3 separate regions of the Homo sapiens genome follow, and all the other regions are linked to region 1. The links come from fine-mapping of genetic effects on gene expression. Tissue or cell type: whole blood. Region 1 holds a variant in brackets; each other region holds the start of a gene. Each region is shown on its reference strand, or each on the opposite one. Region 1 holds the start of ZNF316 (zinc finger protein 316). Region 2 holds the start of KCNS1 (potassium voltage-gated channel modifier subfamily S member 1). Region 3 holds the start of SLPI (secretory leukocyte peptidase inhibitor).

Region 1 (5,221 bases):
CGGGGCTCCTTCTGCAGATGAGGGAAAGCCCGGATAAGGCCCCCAAGGTCACAAAGCGGGCTCCTGGGGCGACGGGCCGAGCGCCTCCCGCCCCCCAGGGGGCGTCCGGAGCCGCCTCCTCCTGCAGAGACCTAGACGATGACAGCCCCTCCTGGATGGGTGTGTCCTGGGGGCGGCCGCGGCCCAGCCCCTGCCGCTGCGGCCGAGAAGGCGTGGGCGGGCACCCCGAGGTGTCACGCGTGGCCTCCCGGGCCTGCCCCCTCCGCCTCCTGCCCGGACCGGCCCCGGGGGTCGGCAACGCGCAGGCCCGGACGGGGGTCCGGGAGGCGGGGGCGCTGCCGCGGAAGTCCCTACCCGCGTTCCGCTCCGACTCTGCAGGCCCCGGCCCCGCCGCCTCCCCGCGGCCTCCCCGCGCCGGGCGTCGAGGGCCAGCCCGGCCCCGCCGCCGCCGCCGCCCCCGAGCGCAAGCCCGGCCCGCCCGCACCTGCCGCCCGCGCCGCCGCCCACCGGCCCCGCGAGACCCACTCACCGCGCGGGCCGGGCTGGCCGAGCCACGGGCCGGACACCGGGGCCGGGGCCTGCGGGCCGGCGGCGGACCCCGCGCTACACAAAGTGACGGCCCGGGAGCTGCGCGACGGCGGCGCGTGGGCACCGGAAGTACCGCCGGCCGGCCCCGCCCCGCCCGCGCCCGCGGGGGGAGGAACTTCCGGTCACGCGGGGGCAGCGGCGCGGAGCGGGGAAGCGCGGGTTGCGGGGGTTTGCCCAGCTGGGCCTCGGGCCGGGGCGAGGACGGGGCATGCGGGGAGGGGACGGGAGCGCCCTCGACACTCGTGGGGCGCCCACAACCTCGCCCCGCTCCTGGACACCCTGGCCAGGTCTCGGAGGTGACCCCGAGGTCCCGCCGCTGCGACCACCGCCTTCCCCGAACCCCAGCCCGGCCTCGTTCATCGGGGCGCCCGCTGAGGACCAGGCCCCGCGCTGGGCCCCCTCCGCCAGTCCACGGAGCCTGCCCGGGACCCCAGGATGGTGGAGGGAGGAGGCGACCCCTGTGGTGGGGAGGGGGCCAGGTGTCCACGCCTCCACCAGATCCCCGGGCCCGCGCGGGGTGAACGTCTTGTGGGTGGGGAGGGAGGAGGGACGGGCGGGGTGAACGTCTTATGGGTGGACTGTGGCGGTTGAGTGCAGGAGGAGACTGGGGTTGTGGAGCCCGCACTTGGAGGGACATGGGGTCACGGGCAGGGAAGCGATGTCCAGGCAGAGGGCATGGCCAGTGTGGGGGCAGAAGTGACAGGCGACCCCAGGAACCCAGGGAGGGGTCGGTGAGCTCAGCGGCCACCCCCAGACCCCCACCCACAAGCCTGTCTGCACCTGCTCCCAAGAGGTGCAGCTGGGGTGTCAGGATGAGCTCTGGCATTGGTGGAGTCCAGGGTCTGTCTTCCGCCTGGAATGGTGTGGCCTGGGCCCCTTCCCCAGCTCCCAGCCCGCCTGCACCACTGTTCTTGGTGCTTTTCTGTGGGGACCCCAGGCCTGACTGGGCAAGAGATAGAGGAGGACTCGGCCAGGCACGGTGTCTGTAATCCTAGCACTTTGGGAGGTCTTGGCGGGCGGATCACGAGGTCAGGAGTTCGAGACTAGCTTGGCTAACATGGTGGGTGAAACCCCATCTCTACTAAAAATACAAAAATTAGCCGGCCGTGGTAGCGCACCCCTGTAGTCCCAGCTGCTTGGGAGGCTGAGGCAGGAGAATCGTTTGAAGCCGGGAGGCAGAGGGTGCAGTGAGCCGAGATCACACCACTGCACGCCAGCCTGGGCGACAAGGTGAGACTCTGTCTCAAAATAATAATAAGATAGAGGAGGACTCAAACCTTAGTCCCACAGAGGGGTGCAGCCCCAACCCCTTGAATCAGACCCTCACAGTGATGTCGCTTGGCTCTTGGTGTCTTAAAATGTCTTAAAGTTAATAACATTTTAAAATAAGGAGTCCCATTCTTGTTTAAAAAATAAAATTGAAAAATCAGGTTCTAATGCGGGGTCTCACACCTATAAATTAAGCACTCTGGGGGGCCGAGGCGGGTCACACCTGTAATCCCAGCACTTTGGGAAAACAAGGTGGGAGGATTGCTTGAGCCCAGGAGGTTGAGGCTGCAGTGAGCTATGATAGCACCACTCCACTCCAGCCTGGGCAACAGATTGAAACCCTGTCTCTAATAATAAATAAAATCTGAAAAATCAGAAGTTCTGGCAACACAAGGCCCCTGGTTTGCAGGGCACCAGCCAGTAGGGCCTGAGAAGTAACCAGCTTCTGTGGGTGGGACTGAGCGTGGCCATGGTCCTCAGTGCCCACCACTCCCTGTCCCTTTCCTCCAGGCCCACATCTGAATGACACTGCCTGACTCTCCTGTGGGTATCTTTTAGAACCCCTAATCCCTAGATTAGACCCTTCCCCACCCTACCTGATCCGTCAGGTTCAGTAGGAAGGTGCAATTGCCCCCAGGCACTCCCAGGAAGGGCTCTGACTGTAGGACAATTAACAATTGACCAAAAGCAGTGTCACCAGGTGATGTGGTTTGGCTGTGTCCCCACTGAAATCTCGTCTTGAATTGTAGTTCTCATGATCCCCACATGTTGTGGAAGGGACCCGGTGGGAGGTAATTAAATCATGGGGGCAGTTCGCCTCATGCTGTTCTCATGTTAGTGAGTTCTCATGAGATCTGATGGTTTTGTAAGGGGCTTTTCCCCTTTGCTCCAC[A/T]CTTCTCCTTCCTGCCATCATGTGAAGAAGGAAGTGTTTGCTTCCCCTTCCACCATGATTGTAAATTTCCTGAGGCCTCCCCAGTCATGCGGAACTGTGAGTCAGTTTTTGGTGGTGGTGGTGGTTGGTGGTGGTTGGTGGTGGTGGTGGTGGTTTGTTTTGTTTTTGTTTTTTTCTTGAGATGGAGTCTCGCACTCTGTTGCCCAAGCTGGAGTGCAGTGGCACAATCTCTGCTCACTGCAACGTCAACCTCCCAGGTTCAAGTGATTCTCCTGCCTCAGCCTCCCAAGTAGCTGGGATTACAGGTGTGCACTACCACGCCTGGCTAATTTTTGTATTTTTAGTTGAGATGGGGTTTCACCGTGTTGGTCAGGCTGGTCTCGAACTCCTGACCTCGTGATCCGCCCGCCTCGGCCTCCCAAAGTGCTGGGATTACAGGCAAGAGCCACTGTGAGTTAAACCTCTTTCCTTTTATAAGTTTCCCGGTCTTGGGCAGTTCTTTACAGCAGCATGAAAATGGACTAATACACCAGGTAAAGGGAAGCAGCTGGAATGTGAAGGCACCAGGCCTTTGCCACCCTTAGCCCTGCAGGAGCAGGAAAGGGCAGGATGTTGTCAAGCCTGGAGGGAGGTGGAGATATAAAGATGGGGACACTGTGGGCACTGTGATTATAGAGGGACAGTGTGGCAAGGAGAGAGTACCCCAACCCTGCCCTCCTGCACCCTGTCACTTCCCAGTGCTGCCCGTTGCCCAAAACCACCTGTAATGTGGACAGCAAGGGACCCCAGAAGAGGAGTGTGTATAATAGAGTCAGCAGCTCCATCCCGGCCTTAGATCCCTCCACCCTGTCAGGCAGGGACCCCGAATCACCCCAGCATCTCCTCAGATCTCCTCTTGGCCTGTCCTCACCTGATACCTAATCCAAGACTCAATTTCTTCCTCTCCCTCGTCCACAGATAATTTTCCTTTTCCTTTTCCTTTTCCTTTCCTTTCTTTCCTTCTTTCTTTCCCTTCCTTCCTTTCTTCCTTCCCTTTTCTTCCTTTCCCTTTCCTTTTTAGGAAAGGAAAGGGCGTGAGCCACCTCACCGGGCCCTACGAGTGAGTTTTGCTTCTTGCTCCAACAGCACTGCTGAGGGGCTGAGGAGACGGAGAGGAGACGAAGGAAGCTGGTGGGACTTATGTGTCCTTGGCCTTAGGGAGATGCTAGACCAGGCCTGGGCCACCTGAGGATGCCTCTGACCTGGGGACAATTGGTTGTCATAAACTGTAGTTTAGTTGGACCTTCTTGTCACTCACTACTGAACTCAGTCTTGATAGATTTCCCTAGACTCATTTGAAGAAGGAAGTAATTAAAAAGCAGGCCAGGATTGGCCCATGCCTGTAGTCCCAGCACTTTGGAAGGCTGAGGCAGGAGGAAAGCTTAAGGCCAGGAGTTTGAGAGCAGCCTGGGCAACATAGCAAGACCCTGTCGCTACACAACATTTTTAAAAATTAGCTGGGTGCAGTGGCTCACGCCTGGAATCCCAGCACTTTGGGAGGCCGAAGCAGGAAGATAGCTTGAGCCCAGGAGTTCAAGACCAGCCTGGGCAACATAGTGAAACCTTGACTCTACTAAAAATTTAAAAATTAGTTGGGTGTGGTGGTGCATGCCTGTAGTCCCAGCTACTCAGGAGGCTGTGGTGAGAGGATTGCTTGAGCCCAAGAGGTTGAGGCTGCAATGAACTATGTTCACACCACTGCACTCCAGCCTGGGTGACAGAGGAAAACTCTGTCTCAAAAATAAAATAAAATAGGCCAGGCACGGTGGCTCATGCCTGTAATCCCAGCACTTTGGGAGGCTGAGGCAGATGGATCACGAGATCAGGAGATCGAGACCATCCTGGCTAACACGGTGAAAACCCGTCTGTACTGAAAATACAAAAAATTAGCCGGGCATGGTGGTGGGCACCTGGAGTCCCAGCTACTGGGGAGGCTGAGGCAGGAGAATGGCGTGAACCTGGGAGGCGGAGCTTGCAGTGAGCCGAGATTGTGCCATTGCACTCCAGCCTGGGCGACACAGCAAAATTCTGTCTCAAAAAAATAATAATAAAATAAAATAAAATAGCTGGGTGCAGTGGCTCACACCTGTAATCCCAGCACTTTGGGAGGCCGAGGCAGGTGGATCACCTAAGGTCAGGAGTTCAAGTCCAGCCTAGCTAACATGGTGAAACCCTGTTGCTACTAAAAATACAAAAATTAGGGGCCAGGCACAGTGGCTCACACCTGTAATCCCAGCACTTGGGGAGGCCAAGGTGGGCGGATCATCTGAGGTCAGGATTTCAAGACCAGCCTGGCCAACATGGAGAAACCCTGTCTCTACTAAAAATATAAAATTAGCCAGGTGTGGTGGCACACACCTGTAATCCCAGCTACTCGGGAGGCTGAGGCAGGAGAATCGCTTGAACCCGGGAGGCAGAGGTTGCAGTGAGCCG
Region 2 (5,221 bases), not on the chromosome of region 1:
TCCACCAAAACTTCATTTACCTCTCACTGTGTAATCTGGGGATGAAACCAGATCCTGGTTTCATTCTCTTCTGCCTTTGGGAAATAGGTCTGTCTTTTCTCTCAATTTTGGAAACCGTCTCTGCAGCTCCAGGGAAAACTCCTGAGTCCTGAGGGGTAGCAAAGGCTGCAGACAAACTCTTAGGCCAGGAAACAGAAGACCTGCTTCTCGGCAAATCTGCCTCAGTTTCCCTGTTGGTCAAATGAGGGAATTGGGCAAGATGCTCACTAAGCAGCTTCCTGCTCTAACTTCTTCTTTCGAGGGAAAAACTAAAGTGGCACAGCCTAGGGCTGTGCTGTCTAATATGGCAGCCACGAGCCATGTGTGGCTACCGAGCACATAAAATGTGACTAGTCCAAACTGAGATATGCTATAGATAAATCTCAAAAAATCTCTCTCAAAAAATAAAAAATAAAATAAATTAGTACACTAGATTTATATATGGGAGGCAGAATTCAGATGACCCCTCCTCAATGATCCTCATCCCTGTATAATCTCCTCCTCTTTAAGTGTAGGTGGAACCCGTGAATGTATATTATATGGCAGAAGGGAGAGTGCCCTGGGTGGGCCTGGACTAATCAGGTGAGAGTTTTAAAGCCAGAGATTTTTCTCTGGCTGGTTACAGGAGAGGAATTCAGCACTCTGATGTCCCTGAAAGAAAGCAAGCATTCATGCTATGAACTGCCTATGGGGCAGCTTCTAGAATCTGAGATTGATCCCTCGGAGACAGCTAACAGGAAAAGAGAGACCTCAGTCCTATAACCACAAGGAAATGAATTCTGCCAACAATCTGTGAGCTTGGAAGAAAACTCTGAAGCTCACATGAGAACCTCAACCCTGGCCAACACCTTGGCTTCAACCTGGTGAGACCCTGAGGGTCCAGCCAGGCCATGCCCAGACTTCTGACCTACAGAAACCATGAGATCATAAATTTGTATTGTTTTAAGCTACTAAATTGTGGTAATTTGTTATGTAGCAATAAGAAAAATTAGTACTGGATTTTAGAGACTTAGTACAAAAAAAAGAAAATGTAAAATATCTCAATAATTTCTTTACTGATTCCAATGTTGAAATCATAATATTTTAGATTTAATAAAATATATCACTAAAAATACAGTTGATCCTGAAACAACACGAGTTTGAACTGCTAGTGTCCACTTACATGCAGATTTTTTTCCAATAAATACATTGGAAAATTTTTGGAGATTTGTGACAATTTGAAAAAACTTACAGATGAACCATGTAGACTAGAAATATCAAAAGCCTTAAGAATAAGTTAGATATGTCGTGAATGCCTAAGATATATGTAGATACTATTTATGTGTCAATCGACTGTTTATATTATTGGTAAGGTTTCTGGCGAACAGTAAGTTATTACTAGTTAAGTTTCAGGGGAGTCAAAAGTTATATTCTAATTTTCTAGGCATGGAGGAGTGGTTTCCCTAACCCCCACTGTTTAAGGGGTAACTGTAATTTCGCCTGTTTTTTACTTCTTTAAAATGTTGCAATCAGAAATGTAAAAGGACATATGTGGGCCGGACGCGGTGGCTCATGCCTGTAATCTCAGCATTTTGTGAGGCCAAGGCAGGTGGATCATTTGAGGCCAGGAGTTCAAGACCAGCCTGGCCAACATGGTGAAACCCCTTCTGTACTAAAAATACAAAAATTAGCTGGGCATGGTGGTGCATGCCTGTAATCCCAGCTACTCAGGAGGCTGAGGCAGGAGAATCGCTTGAACCCAGGAGGCGGAGGTTGCAGTGAGCCAAGATTGTGCCACTGCACTCCAGCCTGCAACAGAGTGAGTGAGACTCTATCTCAAAAAATCAAAAATAAAATAAAATAAAATTATATATGTGGCTCACATTATAGGTGTTGGACTGTGCTGGCCTAGAGGACTCAGAAGTCAGCCATGGGACCTCCGGCAAGTCACCACACCTCTCAAAGCAGTTCTTATCTGTGAGATAGGAATAATAGTAGCACTTACCCCACAGATAAATTTGCAGTTTGAGTGAGATTGAGGTCTGTGCTTGACCCAAGGTAAGTACTCAATAAACGTTGGTAATTATCATTATTATTAATAACAATATGTGCAAAGGCTCATATCCAGGCCCTAGTCTCCAGGAGCCTCTCCCCAACCAGGCACACAGCAGCCACACAACAGGTACATGTGTGGGGATTTCACAACCTCTACAAAGCTCTTTGGCACATGTTCTCTGCCCTCACAACCCACTTGGCAGGTGGGAATCAGGAACCCGTGGGCAGGTAAGGACACTGCGCCTCAGGGGTAAAATGATCGTTTCAAGCTTCACAACTCACCTAGGAAGAACCTGGGGCTCCAAGGGAGATGAGGCCACCTTCTACAGCTCCCTAACTCAGATGCCCACGGTCTGAGAAAATGACTGGAGCTCACCCCTAAAATGGGCGACATAAGATCCTGGCCCTGTCAAGTGTGTGTGCCAGGAATAACTGAGATCAATCACTTGCAGCAGCTGAAGTACCCTGGCACATACTAAACACTCAATTAAGTAAATCATGATTACTGTTGTTCCTTTGCCAGAGAAGCTTCTGCTGAAATCCCTCTCTACGGGGAATCCTCACGCCCTAAATGACCCCTCCTTCCCGGCCCGTAACTCCGGAGGATGCCCCTGCAGGTAGGCCCAGTCTCCAGACACCACCACCCCCCAGCCGAGTCAGGAATAGAAACCGCCGCCTCCGGCCGCCAGCGGCCTCACTCCCTCCTCCGGCAGCGATCGATGCGGCCTTCAGCCGCGGGGGACTAGGCAAGGAAGAAGGAAGGAGAGGGCAGCGGGGCCGCCTGCAGCAGGAGGCTCGGCGGGGCCGGCGGGGCAGAGGCGAGACCGAGTATAGCCAGCGGCTCCCAGCCTCGGTGGCTTTGGGACAGACACGCGAGGCGCCCGGGAGGTGCCACCACAGGTAAGGGGCCTCCTTTGGGGAGGGACGTGGCTCCGGGACGGTCCCGGGCAGCCAGAGTGGGAGGCGGGGCTGCCTGGGGCTCCTGGTGCTCTTACCCCCTCTAAGAGACCCCCCACCCCCCGCCAAGGAGGAAGCAGTGTGGGGTGGCCGCGCTTTGGAGACCCTGGCTGGTACAGTTTGCTCATCTGTAAAATGGGATTAGAAAACCTCCCTGGCAGGGTTGGTGTAGGGATTAAACCGAGTGAGGTGTGCATGGAGCCCAGAGGAGTGACTAGCAGATAGGAGGTGCTCAAAATAAGTGTGTGGAGAGAGAATGAAATAAAAAAACCTGGTCTCCAACCTTAGCTGTGCCATGGACTAGCTGGGTGATTTTGAACAAGTCACTTGGTCTTTCTTACTGATATTCAGGTTCTTGTCAGAAAATGTTTGTTGAATTAATTATCCTGTTTCATAGAGCAGGAAAGTGAGCTCCTGATGGATGAAGGGATTTGCCCAATATTATGCTTCTAATGGGTGATGGAACTGGATTAGAAATTTCATTTTTTGATGCCAAATGCAGGTGGAGATCCAAGTGGAGGTGGGAGCGGAGCTACATCACACGTTTATTGTGCATTGATTATGTGCCAGGGACCATGCTGCCGATAAACACCTTGCATCATTTAATTCTCTGAGCCTCTCCTGGAAAGTATGATGCTACCCGGTTCCACAGACAGGGAAACAAGCCCAGAGAGGGCGACGAATGCACTCAAGGACAGCAGCTAGTAAGTGGTAGACTCAGGTCTGACCACAGGGAAGTACACAGGATTAACATTTATTGAGCATCTACTGTTTTCCCAGGGCTTTGACATATACCACAATAATGATGCATCCAAAGCAACATTATCCCCATTCTAGAGGTAAAAGAGCTAAAGCCCAGAGTGGGAAGGAGACTGGCCTGAGGTCACACAAGTGATAGAGCTAAGGGTGGAACCCCAAATCCATTTAATGCCAAGCCCAGGTGCTTTACACACACTTAATCCCTAGTCTAGGCATTACTGAACCCACAGTGCAAATGAGATTGCCAGTGGTGAGGAGGTGTCACTAGCCCCCAATTCCAGCAGAGTCAGGAGTCAGTGGGTAGTGGAAGAACCTAAATCCTTCCTGAGTATCCACTAAGGCTGAGCACTTTCTATAATCTACCTTAATCCTCCAGTCATCCCTGGAGGTAGGTGCTATTATCTACGTTGTGCAGGAAATTGAGACCTGGAGGACAAATAGCTTCCTCAAGGCCCCAGGTGCGTCAGGGGTGGAGATAAACCCAGGTTTGCCTGACTCCAGAAGATAGTGACACCAGTGAATAATTTATTAAATTCCTTCTGTGAGCCAAGCCCAAGAAAGACACTAGGTCATTTAATCTTCATAACCACACTTTGAGGTGAATATTTTTATTTCCATTTCACAGAGGCTCAGAGAGGTGATGTTACTTGCCTAAGGTGACACAAGAGAGTCAAGATTCAAGGTCAGGTCTGGCTGACTCTACAGATGCTTTACATAATCTAAAGCAGGAGCTCTCAAACTTGACTATGTAGCCGAATCACTTTCCAATCTTGTTAGAACACAAAGTGCTAGACCCCACCCTTAGAGTTCCCGATTCAGTAAATCGATGGCAGGCTGAGAATTTGCATCTTTGACAAATTCCCAGGTGATGCTGATGCTGCTGGTCCGGGGAACACACTATGAGAACCTCCGGTCTAAAGTGGTGCTGCCAACACCCCTAGGAGGTAAGTGTTACTATCCTCATTTTGCAGAAGAAACAGGTTCAGAGGGCTGGCGGGCCCAAGATCCCACAGTAGACCTTTGGTGTAAATAAATCCAAGTTTGTCCTGGAAAAGGAGACATCCTATGTGAGCACCCACTAGGTGCCAGGACATCCTGCGATTCCATCGCTTTCATATCCTTCCAGGTAGATCTCAGCATTTACTTTCCAAAGGAGAAAAATGAAATGGGGGTGGGGTGGGTCAGTGATTTGGCCAAAGTCAAATGATGGGGATGAAGGATAGTCAAAGCCAGGCCTGACTCTGAGTCCAGAGGGCACCTGACATCTACTGAGCGCCTCCTGCATACCAGATGCTTCACACACAGCCTCCAACACCCCTTGGCTGGTTGGATGGAGGAGGGGATTTTAACCTGGTCTTCCAGGAAGGGAAGCCCGGGAACTCCTCAGCGCGCCCTTCTGGTGTCCGCAGGGAGGAGCACTGAAACCTTTGTG
Region 3 (5,221 bases), not on the chromosome of region 1:
TTTGTATTTTTAGTAGAGATGGGATTTCACCATGTTGGCCAGGCTGGTCTCAAACTCCTGACCTCAAGTGATCCACCCACCTCAGTCTCCCAAAGTTCTGGGATCACAGGAGTGAGCCACCACTCCCAGCCTTGAGATAGATTGAATGAGTCAGTCTCAGGTTAAGATTTGGTTAGGAGTGGAAGTGTCCTCCACCAGACAGGTTCTGGGGATCAGCATGTGAGTAACCTGTTTTAGAAAAGCTCAATCTTGTGTGTGTCGTTAATCCGCTATGCAGCTTTGGGCCTGGATCTTCTTCTAAGGGATTCAGTCTCTTTTATGCAAGCTGTGGGTTTGGTCTAGGGGTTAGCATTTTCTGTAAAGGACCAGACGATAAGTATTTTAGGCTGTGCAGTAAATATTTTAGGTCCCTGTTGCCATTGTAGTGGAAAGATAGCCTTAGACAATACATAAATTAATGGATGTGTGGCTATGTGCCAATAAAACTTTATGAAAACAGGTAACTAGGTGGATTTGGTCCAAGGACTGTAGTTTGCTGATCTAGAAAACCCTTGAAGTCCTCTTTTTAGTCTTAACATTCTATGATGTAAACATTTAGAACCAATTATGTCAAAGATAATAATGATTATATACTATTATCTTCTTATGACACCCATGGAAGACATTGCTAATTGGGCACAGGGCTCTTTTCTGATGAGAAAGGAGCTGGCTCTAATCAGTCAATCACAGATTGAGCAATCAGTCAATCACAGATTTAAAAAAAACTTAAGCTGTAGCATTTTCCTTTTAATTTTTTTTTTTTTTGAGACGGAGTCTCAGTTTGTTGCCTAGGCTAGAATGCAATGGTACAATCTCAGCTCACTGCAACCTCTACCTCCAGGGTTCAAGTGATTCTCCTGCCTCAGCCTCCTGAGTAGCTGGGATTACAGGTGTGTGCCACACTGCCTGGCTAATTTTTGTATTTTTAGTGGAGATAGGGTTTCACCATGTTGGCCAGGCTGCTCTTGAACTCCTGACCTCAAGTGATCCGCCCACCTTGGTTTCCCAAAGTGCTAGGATTACAGGCATAAGCCACCGTGCCCAGCCCCTTTTCATTCTTTAAGAAATAAATATTTAGAAAACTCCAGATAATTTCTTGAGTGTGGCACTGAGGAAAATAGGAACAAACAGAGAGAGAGAGAGAGAGAGAGAACAGGAACTCTGTGAGAGAAATCAAATTATCCCCTGGGTGGTGGAAGTGAGAACAAAAATCTTGACCTGAGAGTGTCATTACCCATTGGTGGAAATCATAGCCTCCATTTCTCTCTTACCTACCCTACTAAGTACTCCAACTAAGAGTGAATGCACCTGGCTCATAGTAGTTACCTTGTGCATATTAATTTTCTTCCTTTTCTTTTTCCACCAAAATTTGACTGATGATTGATTATGTCCAAGTCTTCTGATCCACCAAAATTCAAACCATGGAGTGACTTTTGTATAAAGGGATCTGCTGCCAGTTGCCTGTTTGGTTGTGGAATACTTAAATACTTCATGTGGGGCCATCGCTACTTGATAATGAGTGGGTCTTTCATGTCTGTGGAAAGTTCCACAAACCTTCACCTTAGGAATGAATGGGAGAATTCCAAGCATGAAGATAATGAGTCAAGAGCTTGGAGTTTGTAGCTAGATGAGCTTTGGTTGAATTTTATTTTATTTTATTTTTTTAAGACAGGGTATCGCTCTGTCCCCCAAGCTGGAATGCAGTGGCACAATCATGGCTCACTGCAGCCTCAAACTCCTGGGCTAAAGCGATCCTCCTGGCTCAGCCTCCCAAGTAGCTGGGACTACAGGCATACGTACGTCATCATGCCTGGCTAATTTTTTACATTTTTTTGTAGAGATGGGGTCTCAATATGTGGCCAGGGCTGGTCTCAAACTCCTACTCTCAAGGAATCCATACACCTCAGCCTCCTGGGCAGCTGAGACAGCAAGTGTGCGACCCTACACTCAGCTATGGGCTGAATTTTAGAGATAATGGTCGCTCTCTTTATAATTAGAAGCAACCTATGCAGACTGGGTAGCAAATAGAATGGGTTTAATTTTTTGCTGTCATGTGAGATCTGTAAGGGATTTTGGGGAATTTTAGGAAGCAATCCTCTAAGATCTCAAATTATCTCACAGCTAAATGTAGATTACAGTGACTGATGAGCTGCTTTCCCCCTTTATCTCAGATTCATTTCAATTCTCTTTAGTGGGAAGGGATACTATTCATTTGTTCTTTTCATTCAGAGTCCCTTCATGCCCTTAATTTCATAACCCTCTGAGAAGGGCTGACTTGTTAGTATCATTTCATTTCACAGCTGAGACAACTGAGCTCCAGAGAGATTTGTGGAGAGCGGAGCTCTTCTTCAGCTTTCATTTGTGAGTGCTTTTCCTGTGTCAGGCACAGAACAGGCACTGGGGATATAACGGTGTAAATATTTCAGGGAACTAAGTATCAGTTGGTTGAACGAGCTGAACTTTTGAGAAAGAAACTGCATTGAGTAATCAGCAGAGTTTCACAATGCCTGAGAGTCCAGTAATGTGAGAATCAGAATTAGCAATGTGAGAATAGAATGTATTGCACAAAGTCTCAGCAGGGAGTCTGTGTCTGGTTTTAGTTCCAGGTCCGGGTAGCACCTTTGCAATTGACCACTTCTTCCCTCTCTCCACCTATAAGGCTAATGGCCTGGGATCTTGTGATGTTTAGGGCTCAGATGGACACTGAGATGGCCTCTTTAATCAACCAACTTCCCAGGCCAATCTCTTCCCTTTCTTTTCTGATAGTTGCTGTGTTGGCCTCATAGCCTTACCTGGCATAGGAAAGATAAACAATCTCCTTGGTGTCAGGATTTCTGGTCTCTGGCTACGTTTCCTGCTTATGCAATAGTAGCTGGGAGAGGCCGAAAGAATTCTGGTGGGGCCACACCCACTGGTGAAAGAATAAATAGTGAGGTTTGGCATTGGCCATCAGAGTCACTCCTGCCTTCACCATGAAGTCCAGCGGCCTCTTCCCCTTCCTGGTGCTGCTTGCCCTGGGAACTCTGGCACCTTGGGCTGTGGAAGGCTCTGGAAAGTGTAAGTTGGAGTCACTCTGGTCTAATCTGGGCTGCAGGGTCAGAGGTGGGGTCTCCTTGTGGTGTGGGTGTGTCCCCTTCTGTAGGCTCTGATCCCTCAGCTTAGTTTCGGGAGACCTCCCTGAGGGTGGAATACATGTCTGGCTGAGCTCCAAGGTTTGTGTGACAGTTTGAGCTTCTGGAAATGCTTCCTCTATGCAGCCATGCTGTCAGCCCAGGTCCCACTCTCTCTCTCTCTCTCTCTCTCTCTCTCTCTCTCTCATACTCCGCCTTCTTCTTCACCTGTCTGCGACTCTCAAATCATTAGTTTCTGACTCTGCTTCCTTGTGTCTTTGCTTCTGCTATTTTGTCTCTGTGCTTCTGCCTTGGGCTTTAGCTCTCAACTTCTCTCACACTGGTTCTATTTATCTTTGTTTACCTCTCTCCATCTCCATCACTCCCAGCCTTCCTCTCTGCCTTTGTGTAGCCTTGTTTTGCTCTTGGGTGGGAGGTCTTGACTAGAAGCCTGCTGCCCTTTTCTTGGGTGTGAAACGTCCCCTGTCCATTTGTCTAATTTAATCAAGCCCATCAATACACCTGGAGATCAGGCAGGCATGACCCTTTGGGCTTTGTGGACAGCTACTGAGGTAAGGGTCTCTCCCCCTCAAAAGTGGTGCTTTGTTCAGGAGGCATGATGGGTCCTCAGTACCCAGCCTCCTCCTGACCTCTTGACTTTCTCTTCAAAAGCCTTCAAAGCTGGAGTCTGTCCTCCTAAGAAATCTGCCCAGTGCCTTAGATACAAGAAACCTGAGTGCCAGAGTGACTGGCAGTGTCCAGGGAAGAAGAGATGTTGTCCTGACACTTGTGGCATCAAATGCCTGGATCCTGTTGACACCCCAAACCCAAGTAAGCAGGTCGGGGAACTGGGTAGAGAGGAGTGAGCCTGGGGACACAGCATTAGAGGGATGGAACTGGGTGATGGGTCCTGCCAGGCCTCCTTGTCAATCCGTCAGTGAGTCACACTGCCCTAAGCAGGAAGGTAGCCAGCAGCTGGTGAAGCAGCGGGCATTTAGATAGCCAGGTAGTTGGAAGCCTCCCACCTAGTCAGCACTGGGTGGCTGGCCACCTGCATCAATGGGGGGCCTGAAGTTCTAGGAGAGCCAGGTGCTATGTTTGGGGGCCGCCTTAGGGAGAAGGTGGTGGTGATAGAGGTGGGGAGGGGATGATCCCCCCTGCTGAAGCTGGAGCAGGGGCTCACTCTAAAAAGTGGGGATGGGAGGGGTTGTATAAAGTACAAGGCCTCTGACCGGTAGCCTCACTCTCACCCAGCAAGGAGGAAGCCTGGGAAGTGCCCAGTGACTTATGGCCAATGTTTGATGCTTAACCCCCCCAATTTCTGTGAGATGGATGGCCAGTGCAAGCGTGACTTGAAGTGTTGCATGGGCATGTGTGGGAAATCCTGCGTTTCCCCTGTGAAAGGTAAGCAGGGGATGAGGGCACACTGAGCTCCCTCCAGCCCTCTCAGCCTCAACCCTCTGGAGGCCCAGGCATATGGGCAGGGGGACTCCTGAACCCTACTCCAAGCACAGCCTCTGTCTGACTCCCTTGTCCTTCAAGAGAACTGTTCTCCAGGTCTCAGGGCCAGGATTTCCATAGGATCGCCTGTGGCTTTGATTCTATTCTAGTGTCTCTGGGTGGGGGTCCTGGGCAAGTGTCTTTCTGAGTCTCAGTTTCTTTATCGGTAAAATGTACATAATGAGATTGAAAGTGCTCTGCAAAGCACTATGTGCACTAAGAATTTATTATTCAGGTTGTTTCCATCATGTTTTCTGAGGTGAAATCACAAAGGATCAGTGGAGTTTGAGGATTATCTAGTTCAATGCTTTGAGTTTAGAGTTTTACGGTGAAAATGAGACTTGTCTCCTGACACTAAGTCTCTCTCAACTATAGCGCTATCTTGCTATTTTCTCTATCTCAGAAGGATCCTTGGGCAGGAGGAAGGATGTGGATATGATTTGGCTGGTTTCTATGCTGAAGCTCTTATCTGATTTTCTCTCACAGCTTGATTCCTGCCATATGGAGGAGGCTCTGGAGTCCTGCTCTGTGTGGTCCAGGTCCTTTCCACCCTGAGACTTGGCTCCACCACT

The links. PIP is the estimated chance that this variant, and not a neighbour inherited with it, causes the effect.
Region 2: it holds the start of KCNS1, and the variant in region 1 is fine-mapped to the expression of KCNS1 in whole blood (TOPMed, PIP above 0.99).
Region 3: SLPI starts here. The variant in region 1 is fine-mapped to the expression of SLPI in whole blood (TOPMed, PIP above 0.99).

What each region holds. Positions count from the first base shown.
Region 1 is chr7:6,632,756-6,637,976 of GRCh38, reverse strand. It overlaps ZNF316 (zinc finger protein 316), which reads right to left and starts at 659. Exons shown (of 9, transcript NM_001278559.2): 1 at 530-659; 2 at 1-131. RefSeq lists silencers at 1-319, 560-979. The variant A/T (reference allele first, on the strand shown) is at 2,750.
Region 2 is chr20:45,098,673-45,103,893 of GRCh38, reverse strand. It overlaps KCNS1 (potassium voltage-gated channel modifier subfamily S member 1), which reads left to right and starts at 2,767. Exons shown (of 4, transcript NM_001322799.2): 1 at 2,767-2,973; 2 at 4,655-4,733; 3 at 5,199-5,221. The coding sequence starts at 4,658.
Region 3 is chr20:45,252,334-45,257,554 of GRCh38, reverse strand. SLPI (secretory leukocyte peptidase inhibitor) reads left to right here and starts at 2,991. Exons shown (of 4, transcript NM_003064.4): 1 at 2,991-3,096; 2 at 3,822-3,980; 3 at 4,404-4,553; 4 at 5,136-5,221. The coding sequence starts at 3,012. The coding sequence ends at 5,140. All of the region lies in intron 2 of LOC105372630 (a long non-coding RNA gene), which reads right to left.